2 separate regions of the Homo sapiens genome follow, and region 2 is linked to region 1. Evidence: fine-mapped expression QTL. Tissue or cell type: whole blood. Region 1 holds a variant in brackets; the other region holds the start of a gene. All regions are shown on one strand. Distances are from middle to middle.

Evidence for each region. PIP is the estimated chance that this variant, and not a neighbour inherited with it, causes the effect.
Region 2: it holds the start of GSAP, and the variant in region 1 is fine-mapped to the expression of GSAP in whole blood (TOPMed, PIP above 0.99).

Annotation. Positions count from the first base shown.
Region 1 is chr7:77,363,733-77,368,886 of GRCh38, forward strand. The region is part of intron 12 of GSAP (gamma-secretase activating protein); the gene reads right to left. Among named protein-coding and RNA genes, the nearest start is that of GSAP, 50 kb to the right of the region's middle. The variant G/A (reference allele first, on the strand shown) is at 2,417.
Region 2 is chr7:77,414,237-77,419,390 of GRCh38, forward strand. GSAP (gamma-secretase activating protein) reads right to left here and starts at 2,113. Exons shown (of 31, transcript NM_017439.4): 1 at 1,977-2,113. The coding sequence starts at 2,085. LOC101927243 (a long non-coding RNA gene) reads left to right here and starts at 962. Exons shown (of 5, transcript NR_110073.1): 1 at 962-1,112. RefSeq lists silencers at 1,279-1,568, 1,629-1,838, 2,059-2,408.

The sequences.
Region 1 (5,154 bases):
TTATCTTAAACACAAAATAGCAAAAAAGAATAACTTCATCAGATAACATGGTAACAATTCTATTAGATGTAAAATGACTGTTACGGTTACTGAGCACACAATAACAACTTTTCTTTACAATTACAGCTGACTCATGACTCACTGAGAATAAAAGTAATCTATCACTAAAGTATAAACAAAATAATAATTATAAGAGTTACAAAAGTCTCATATACCACTTGGACTGCTTTCATACAGTAAACATTATCAGCAAAAAACTACTTGTTTATCCATTCTTTTATATACTATAATCACAAGGAACATGAAATTGCTTAAAAAAAAGACTTTAGATTCTCTAGTAATAAATAAAAATTAAAACAAGGTACCATAATTTTCCTTTAGAAGTAGTTTTTTAAATGATAATGAAATACTGTCAAGGGAGCATGTGCTTCTTACACAATTCTCAAATAGTAGTGAATGAGTCAACTAACACAATATCTCAGAAAAATTCTTTCACAGAGGGTTAAATATATTCATACCTGTTCACCCAGTAATTCTTTTAGGATTCTATCCTGGGAAATGAACATGATGGCAACATAGATCATAACCTCCATTCTAGCAAACTATCTGCACTCCATCCTTTAGAGAATGAAAGTTTTTCTCATTTTGAAAAAAAGTAAGATGTACATTCTCAGTAAACTATCACAAGAACAAAAAACCAAACACCGCATATTCTCACTCATAGGTGGAAACTGAACAATGAGAACACATGGACACAGGAAGGGGAACATCACACTCTGGGGACTGTAGTGGGGTGGGGGGAGGGGGGAGGGATAGCATTAGGAGATATACCTAATGCTAAATGACAAGTTAATGGGTGCAGCACACCAGCATGGCACATTTATACACATGTAACTAACCTGCACATTGTGCACATGTACCCTAAAACTTAAAGTGTAATAATAAAATAAAATGAGATGTAGAATAAATGTACCTAATTACATATTCTAAGAACCATATCCAGAACTTATAAGCAAATATTTCCAAATTGTTAGGTCATGCTTAGTTGCCCCACCCAATCCCAAAGGGAAAAAAAGACACAGCAAGTTGAAATGGTATGTACACAGGCTCTGTGAAGCTATCCAACAGAACTGTCTTTGACAATGGAAATGTTATATACCTGTATAGTCCAATATGGTGGCAACTAGCCACATGTAGTCACTGAACACTCAAAATGTGGATAATATGACTGAAGCACTATTTATCTGAGACAAAGTCTCACTCTGTTGCCCAGGCTGGAGTGCAGTGGTGCAAACATGGCTCACTGTAGCCTTAACCTCCCAGGCTCAAACAATCCTCCCACTTCAGCCTTCCAAATAGCTAGGACTACATGTGTGCCTGGCTAATTATTTTATTTTTTTTAAGAGATGGAGTCTATGTTACCCAGGGTGGTCTTGAACTCCCTGGGCTCATGTGATCTTCCTACTTTGGCCTCCCAAAGAGCTGGGACTACAGGAATTTTTTTTAACTTCTATTTTCAGTTCAGGGGTACATGTGAAGGTTTGTTATATAGGTAAACTCATATCACAGGGGTTTATTTTTACAGATAATTTCATCACCCAGCTATTAAGCCTGGTACTCAATAGTTACTTTTTCTGCTCCGCTCCCTCCTCCCACCCTCCACTCTCAAGAAGACCCCAGTGTCTGTTGTTCCCTTGTGTTCAGGAGTTCTCATCATTTAGCTCCTACCTGTAAGTGAGAACACTAGGTATTTCGTTTTACTGTTCCTGCGTTAGTTTGCTAAGGATAATAGCCTCTATCTCCATCCATGTTCCCACAAAAGACATGATCTCATTCTTTTTTATAGCTGCACAGTATTCCACGGTATGTATGTACCACATTTTCTTTATCCAATCTGTCACTGATGGGCATTTAGGTTGATTCCATGTCTTTGCTAACATGAATCACGCTGCAATTGACATTTGCATACGTATATCTTTATGGTAGAATGATTTTTATTCCTCTAAGTATATACCCAGTAATCAGATTGCTGGGTCCAATAGTAGTTCTGCTGTTAGCCTTTGAGTAATCACCATACTGCTTTCCACAATGGTAGAACTAACTTACACTCTCATCAACAGTGTATAAGTCTTCCCTTTTCTCTGCAACCTTGCCAGCAACTGTGGGTTTTTTTTTTTTTTTTTTTTTTTTACTTTTAATAATAGCCATTCTGACTGGTATGAGATGGTATCTCATTGTAACCTCTATCTGCATTTCTCTAATCCTCAGTGATACTGAGTTTTTCACATGCTTGCTGGCCACATGTCTTCTTTTGTAAAGTATCTGTTCATGTCCTTTGCCCACTTTTTAATGGAGTTGTTTTTGTCTTATAAATTTAAGTACCTTGTAGATGCTGGATACTAGGCCTTTGTCAGAT[G/A]CATAGTTTGCAAATATTTTCTCCCAATTCTGTAGGTCGTTTGGTTTACTCTGTTAGTTTCTTTTGCTGTGCAGAAGCTCTTAAGTTTAATTCGATCCCATTTGTCAATTTTTGCTTCTTTTGTGATTACTTTTGATGTCTTTGTTATGAAATATTTGCCCATTCCTATGACTAGGATGGTATTGCCTACGTTTTCTTTCAGAATTTTTATAAATTTTGGGTTTTACATTTAAGTCTTTAATGCATCTTGAGTTGATTTTTGTCTATGTTGTAAGGAAGGGTTCCAGTTTCAATTTCTATATATGGCTAGCCAGTTATCCCAACACCATTTATTGAGTAGGGAGTCTTTTCCCCATTGCTTTTGTCAGCTTTGCTGAAGATCAGGTAGTCATAGGTGTGCAGCCTTATTTCTGGGTTCGCTATTCCATTCTATTGGTCTATGTGCCTGTTTTGGTAACAGTACCATACTGTTTTGGTTACTGTAGCCCTGTAGTATAGTTTGAAGTTGGGTAACATGATATCTCCAGCTTTGTTCTTTTTGCTTAGGTGTACCTTGGCTACTCAGGCTTTTTTGGTTCCATATGAATTTTAAGACAGTTTTTTCTAGTTCTGTGAAGAATATTGATAGTTTGATAGGAATAGCATTGAATCTGTACACTGCTTTGGGCAGTATGGTCATTTTAATGATATTGATTCTTCCTATCCATGAGCATGTTTTTCCATTTCTTTGTAACTTCTGATTTCTTTGAGCAGTGTTTTGTAATTCTCATTGTAGACATCTTTAACTTCCCCTCCCTGGTTAGCTGTATTCCTAGGTATTTTATTCTTTCTGTGGCAATTGTGAATGGGATTGCCTTTCTGATTTGGCTCTTGACTTTGCTCTTGTTGGTGTAAAGAAATGCTAGAGATTTCTGTACATTGATTTTGTATCCTGAAAGTTTGCTGAAGTTGTTTATCAGTTGAAGGAGCTTTTGGGCTGAGACTATGGGGTTTTCTACAGAATCATGCCGTATGCAAACAGGGATAGCCTGACTTCCTCTCTTCCTATTTGGGATGCTCTCTTGCCTGATTGCTCTAGCTATGACTTCCAATACCATGTTGGATAGGAGTGGTGAGAGAGGACATCCTTGTCCTGTGCCAGTTTTCAAGGGAAATGCTACCAGCTTTTGCCCATTCAGTATGATGTTGGCTATGGGTTTGTCATAGATGGCTATTATTTTGAGGTTTTCCTTCAATACCTAGTTTATTCAGAGTTTTTAACATGAAGGGGTATTGAGTTTTATCGAAAGCCTTTTCTGCATCTATTGAGATAAATGTGGTTTTTGTCTTTAATTCTGTTTATGTGATGAATCACATTTATTGAATTGCATATGTTGAGCCAACCTTGCCTCCCAGGGATGAAACCTACTTGACTGTGGTAGATTAGCTTTTTGACATGTTATTGGATTTGGTTTCCATGTATTTTGATGATTTTTGCATCAGCGTTCATCAAGGATATTGGCCTGAAGTTTTCTTTTGTTCTTATGTCTCTGACAGGTTTTCAGTATCAGGATGATGCTGGCCTCATAGAATGAACTGGGGAAGAGTCCATCCTCCTCAATTTTTTGAAAGGGTTTCAGTAGGAATGGTACCAGCTTTTCTTTGTACGTCTGGTAGAATTCAGTTGTGAATCCATCAGATCCTGAGCTTTTTTCGGTTGGTAGGTTATATATTACTGATTCAATTTGGGAGCTTATTATTGGTCTGTTCAGGGAATCAATTTCTTCCTGGTTCAGCCTTGGGAGGCTGTTTGTGTCCAGGAATTTATCTGTCTCTTCTAGGTTTTCTAGTTTGTGTACTTAGAGGTGTTCTCAGTAGTTTCTGATGATTATTTTTATTTCTGTGAGGTCAGTGGTAACATCCCATTTGTCATTTCTAATTGTGTTTATTTGGATCTTCTCTCGTCTTCTTAGTCTAGCATGGGTTCCTGGAGTTGTACATTTACTCACCACTTCCCTGGGTGGTGGAAGTTCCCCTGGCTCTGTGTCACTCCTAGGTGGGCTGTCATCCTGCCTTGCTTTTTGCCATTCTCCATGGGTTAAGTTGTTTCCTGGATTAGTCCCAATGTGAACATCTGGATGATTCAGTTGAAGGCGCTGCATTTACTCGCCCCTTCCCTGTGAGAGTGGCACTTACGCTTCCCTGTGAGAGTGGCTCACATTAGCTGCTTCTAATCAGCCCTGGATTTTTTTCTTTCATTTTAATTAATGTAAATTCAAATAGCCACATGTGGCTATTGGCTACCATACTGGACAACACAGCTCTAGAGCACTGGTTCTTAACCCTGACAGCACATTAAACTTACTTGGGATCACAGATGCCCAGGTTCCACATCAGAAGAATTAAGTCAGAATCTCTGGGGGGTGAGACTCAGGCATTTGTATTTTTTAAAGCTCACTAAATGATTCTAACGTGAACCCAGATTGAGAACCACTTTTGAAATCAGCAGATTTGGATGTGAGTCCTGCTTTTGGCTTACTAAGTCTATTGCCTCAGGCAAGTTAATTAAATTATCTAAGCCTCAGTTTCCTCATCTGTAAATAAAGAAAATATAGAACTTATTTCATAGGGTTCTTGTGAGATAATTAAATAAGATACTGTGTATAAAGAGATTATTATTGTTAGATTGTTAGTTGCAAAGAAGTTATATCTGGCTATAAAGGTTAGCTGGTGTTATTCCATAACAGTCTTGCTGCTAT
Region 2 (5,154 bases), 51 kb after region 1:
TAATTCATAATTTACATTTGAAAAGCCAGAACTTTGAAAGGATAATGATTTCCACAAATGTGTGTTGTAACTGCTGTGCTAGAAATGAGACAGAATCCCAGATTTCCCTGCCACTGCTATAAATTACAGAACAGGAATTAATTTGTGTGGGGGTATTTTTGAGCTACCACCCACTGGTGATTATCAGAGGTGATAATTCTCTTAGTATAACAGGGCTAATATCTTACCAAGATATTTGCTCTGAAAGAGCAAAATACTACCAGTATCAGAAAAGCTAGTATTTCCAGAAAGTACCTTCTGAGGACCTAGAGCTATCTGTTGTTTAGTGGAAGGTCAATACACAAGTTTATATTTCTTCAGAGATGAGCGAAAGATACAAGGAAGCCAGGTCCCAGTGGGTCACACACAGCTTTTCAAGCACGACACACATTACGGAAACATAAGACTGTGGCATTTCACACTCATCTAACTTCTCATTTGCAGACACCTGCCATTTAGCAAAATAAAGTGGGAGTCCAGAAAAAGGAGTACTTGGTAGTAGAAGACAGAGCTGCCTGTTGTATTTCAAAAAGTTAAGCCTTCAAAAACTTTTCAGACATGTGGGCGACTTTTTTTTTTTTTTTTTTTTTTTTTTTTTTTGAGACGGAGACTTACTCTGTTGCCCAGGCTGGAGTGCAGTGGCGAGATCTCGGCTCACTGCAACCTCTGCCTCCCAGGTTCAAGCGATTCTCCTGCCTCAGCCTCCCGAGTAGCTGGGATTACAGGAGCGTGTCACCACGCCCAGCTAATTTTTGTATAAAATTCTTCCTTGACCACCCTCTCCACCTCGAAAAAAAGTAAAGCCTTACTAAGCATGACACTAATGCAAACTCAATGCATACGCTACACAAACATATAACTCCTTATTTGGAGCTAATAATATTCCAAGCCAAGGAAACCTACAAATAATTTCGCTATAGTCATAGGAGAGTGTGAAGATACAAGATAGCAACTTGATATATAACTCACATCAAGAAAACTTTCACCAGCGTTTAAGGGAAAGGAGTTGTAGATGTGGGTCATTTAATACCCACTTCCAAATTCACTGAAGTGGACAGCGCCCTACACACAAGGTGAGACCTACAGGCATCATTGCTTTGAAGCTGCATTTAAGCTCTGAAGCTCCAATATTTATAGAAGACTTTTAAAACTTTGTAAGAAATCACAAAGTTCCCCTTCTTTAAAACAGATCAGTGCTGGGAAGGCTCAAAAGTCACTTTCACTCCCTTACCAAATCATCAAAAAGCCCGGAGTGGCAGGGCCGGGAGCCGAGCATCTCGCGCGCAGCCCCAGCCTGCACAGGTGCGGAGCTCGGGGGCGGCTGGGGGCTCTCGCCCCGCCGCGCGCAGCCTGGAGGCGGCCCCTGCCCTCTTGCGCCTCACCGCCGAGGCCCATGTCCCCTGAGCCACGGACACGGTTCAACAGACACATAAACACGTCTCGCAAATGTGGGGACAAACTGTTCCACCGTTAGGTATAGGGTGGTTTGCTTGGTGGTCACGGATTCTTTCTCAAAACGTGAAGCTTCCAGGAGCACTCCTGTCTTGGCAAAGCCCCTGCGCTGCCGATGAACCCCCCGGGAGGTGGGATGCGGCCGCTGAGCTGAGCACGACCCTCTGCCCTCGCCGTGAGGTGATGCTGAGGGAACCGCCAGCGGCCCGGCCCCTCTGCCAAGGGCGAATTTCCGCGGGCCGGCAGCGAGCCAGGCGCCTCAGGCCCCACGGCGACCTGGCCCGGGCTCTGCCCCCAGACCTTCCGCCGTGGCTGGGTGTGGGTGGCAAAGCCAAAACAGCCCTCTGAGGAGGGGAGCGACGCCCTCGCACCAGCCTTCTCAGGGCGGCGACGCCCCGGGTTGCTCCCCACCGGGTCGGAGTCCGGGGGGTATGAGGGACTCCCACTCCCCGCCCCCACCCCTCTCCGCAGCGCGCCTCCCGCACCTGCGCCGCCGCTTCCGGCCCCGCTGGCCTCCGACACTGCCCGCTGCGCCCGCAACCACGGGAGCACGTCCTTCCCGAGGTCGAAGTCGGCGACCAGGCGAAGAGCCATCGCCCGGACACGACCACCGGGCGGCTCTGGGGCCCCGCACCGCGGGCATTCCCGGCCCCGCGTGGCCGCCTCGCCCTCGCGTCCCCGCTCCCGCCCCCTCTTTCCTCTCCCCCGCCCCCTGCTGCTTTCGGTTCTGCAGCGCCCTGGCCTGAGAAGCTCCGGCACCAGCTCCTCCCGGCCGGCGGCCCGCACCTGAGCCGGAGCCGGAGCCGGGCACGGCGGGTAGCGGTGGGGCGGGGTGGACCAGGCGCCAGGACCAGGCCCGCCGGGGCGGGAGGCCTCCGCGCGCACCTTCGGGGCTGAGGATAGAGGGCGCAAAGACGTGGGCGCTTCAGGGCCTTGGCGAGGCCGCTAGCCCAGTGGCTTCCAAACCTGGAGGGTCGGCCTATTTTCTTTATTCTACAAGTGCCTCCACTGTGCAGCAAAGTGTGGAAACCACTTGGCTTGAGAGAGCTGGGTCCTCTGGAGCAGTTCAGGGTCACCACAGAAGTAGGCCGTCTCTTGGGCCTATTCGCCCCAGCTTCGAGGTGGTGGTGCTTTATTAGTGTTATTAAGGTAATGAGTAGCAACTGGGAGCGTATGACGAAGGTGATCCCATTGTAAGAGAAACGCTAAAAGGGGTTAATGCGCTTGATACAAACAGCGTCCTTTTTGCCTTTTAACTCTAGTACATCTCATTTGATGCCTTGAGACATGAAAACTGAATCTTAAGTCTCCACGCAAACCCTCTGCCTCCCACCAGGGTCTAACAGAGCACTCTGGAAGGTGCTCGACAATTACTGAAGAATGAGTGAATACAGTAATAAAGAATGCTTTTTCACATGCTTCCGAAATTAAGGTCTGAAAACTACTTGTATTGACGTCATCTGGGGCACTATTTTACAATGCAGACTCCTGATCTCTACACCTGGACAAGACCAGAAACGTGCATTTTACCCAGAGCCTCGGGTGATTCTTAGGCTTACTAAGTTTGAAAACTACTCCAACCAAATGTAAAAGAAAGTCTTGAATTTTTTTCCCTCCTAGAGACATGTTTCTCCAACTGAGGTAATGGATGATTTCAGGTAGAACTCCATTACTCACCACCATATACAGAGGAAAGTCCTCCCACCCGGGAAGTGCATGCAAATTTAAGATAAATGCCTAATGAAGCTGCTAATATTATCAGTGAATAAAAGGAAGGCCACTGGAGCCCCCAAGGAGCTAATGCAACTATTTCATATCAAATAAGCTTGTTGCCTTTGTCATACAGAAACACTGTTGGCCAATTTTTTAAAGTCAGTACATTTCCATTGTTTTTATTTTTGCAGTTAACTTCTATTTTTGCCAGGCAGGACTGATTTTATAGTCAAGCAGTGATGATATAAAAAATTCTCTTCAAATTAAGTGAAAAAGCCAATGTAAAGAAGGTGAGAAACAATAAGATAATGATAGAAAGATGTGGCCAAAATCATGAGGGTGCTATATGAAGGCATGTGTATCAGTTAGGATTAGATTCTCCAGAAGTTAATAAGAACTCAGATTAACAGTAAATTAAACACACAAGTTTTATTCTGTCACCTAGCTGGACGTAGGCAGAATAAAGCTCTTAGGGCAGGTTCCTGAATTTATCAGGGACCCAGGCTCCTTCCAGTTCTTTGCTCCACCTGATCCTGAGTGTACCCTTGTCCTCATGATCAAAGAGGGCTGCAGAAGCTTCAGCCTTCACGTCTGCATTCCAGAAATCAGAATGGAAGAAGAGGAATAAAAAGAGGATGCTACCTCTCTTTTAAGGATACTTCCCGGAAGTTCTACACAACATTTCTACGTATGTTTCACTCACCAGAATTTAGTCACATGGCCAAATGTAGCTTTCAAGGGAGGCAAGGAAATATACCTGGCCATTGCTGTGCCCAGATAAAAATCAGGACGGTATTACTGAAGAAGGTGGGGAAAGTAGATATTCAGAAGCAATTAGAGATCTCTGTCAGAGTATGATACCCGATTCCGGCCACTGAGTTGTAAGGAAACCTCTGCTATGACAGATTTCTCTATTCTTAAAACAAGAGACATGGGAAAAGATGGTCCCTTTCAGTCTTTAACTATTTCGGGATCTAGATATGATTGCTGGAATTTCAGCCATCTAGCACACTGAAAATGGAGTCATTGGAGTCAGGAGAGTCCAGAGAACTGCAGAGAAGAGAAACCTTGGTAAATTATTTTTGGAGCCATCCTCTGCCCTTTCTGATATTAGAGATGTTGAATTTCCTATTGTTTAAATGATATTCAGTCAGACTTTTATTTTACTTGCAACCAAGGGTTTCAATTTTAAGGAGTGATCATTTCAAAATTTAGGGCACAGGCCAAAGAGCACTATAATAATAGGTTTGTGTTTGAACACTTATTAGAACACATTCTATATTTTGTATTGTTAACATAAAATGAAGTTATGTTGAGGGAGTAGGCTTACAGGAAACAGCTCAGATAAGCAAAAAGAGTTTGTTGCAAAGCCCTGAAAACCTAAGGGCCTCTGGATTAGATCACCTGAAAGTCATTCTACGTATCATGCAAGCCAGTTTGAGTTGGGTTTTCTGTTACTTGTGCCAAAAGCATCTTAAATCAGGGATTTTCAAACTTTAATGAGCATTCAAATCACCTAAGGATCTTGATAAAAGGTAGATTCTGATTCAGCAGGGTGAGGTGGTGCTGAAGAGTCTACATTTTAACGAGTTTCCAGGTCATGCCAAAGCTGCTGGTCCACAGATGACATTTTGAATAGCAACATTCTGCTACTTAATGTGAGGAGCTTTCCACCTCTGTATTGCTGCCTTACTGTCCACCATAGAGAGGGCCAGGTGAGGAAATGCATGAAATGGCTAGCTTTGAAGATATACCAGAGCTAAAGGTCGGTATGTGAGGAGAAATCTAAAATGGAGGTAAATATTGATTCCAGAAGTTTGAACCACGCCATGAGTCACAAGTTTTAGTAGCAAGCCACAGAGAATCAGCTAAAGGGAGGAGATAAAGGTGCTTACACTATAGTAGAGATGCAAGCACAAGGCAAGAAAAGAGGTGAAGCAATGCAGAGAA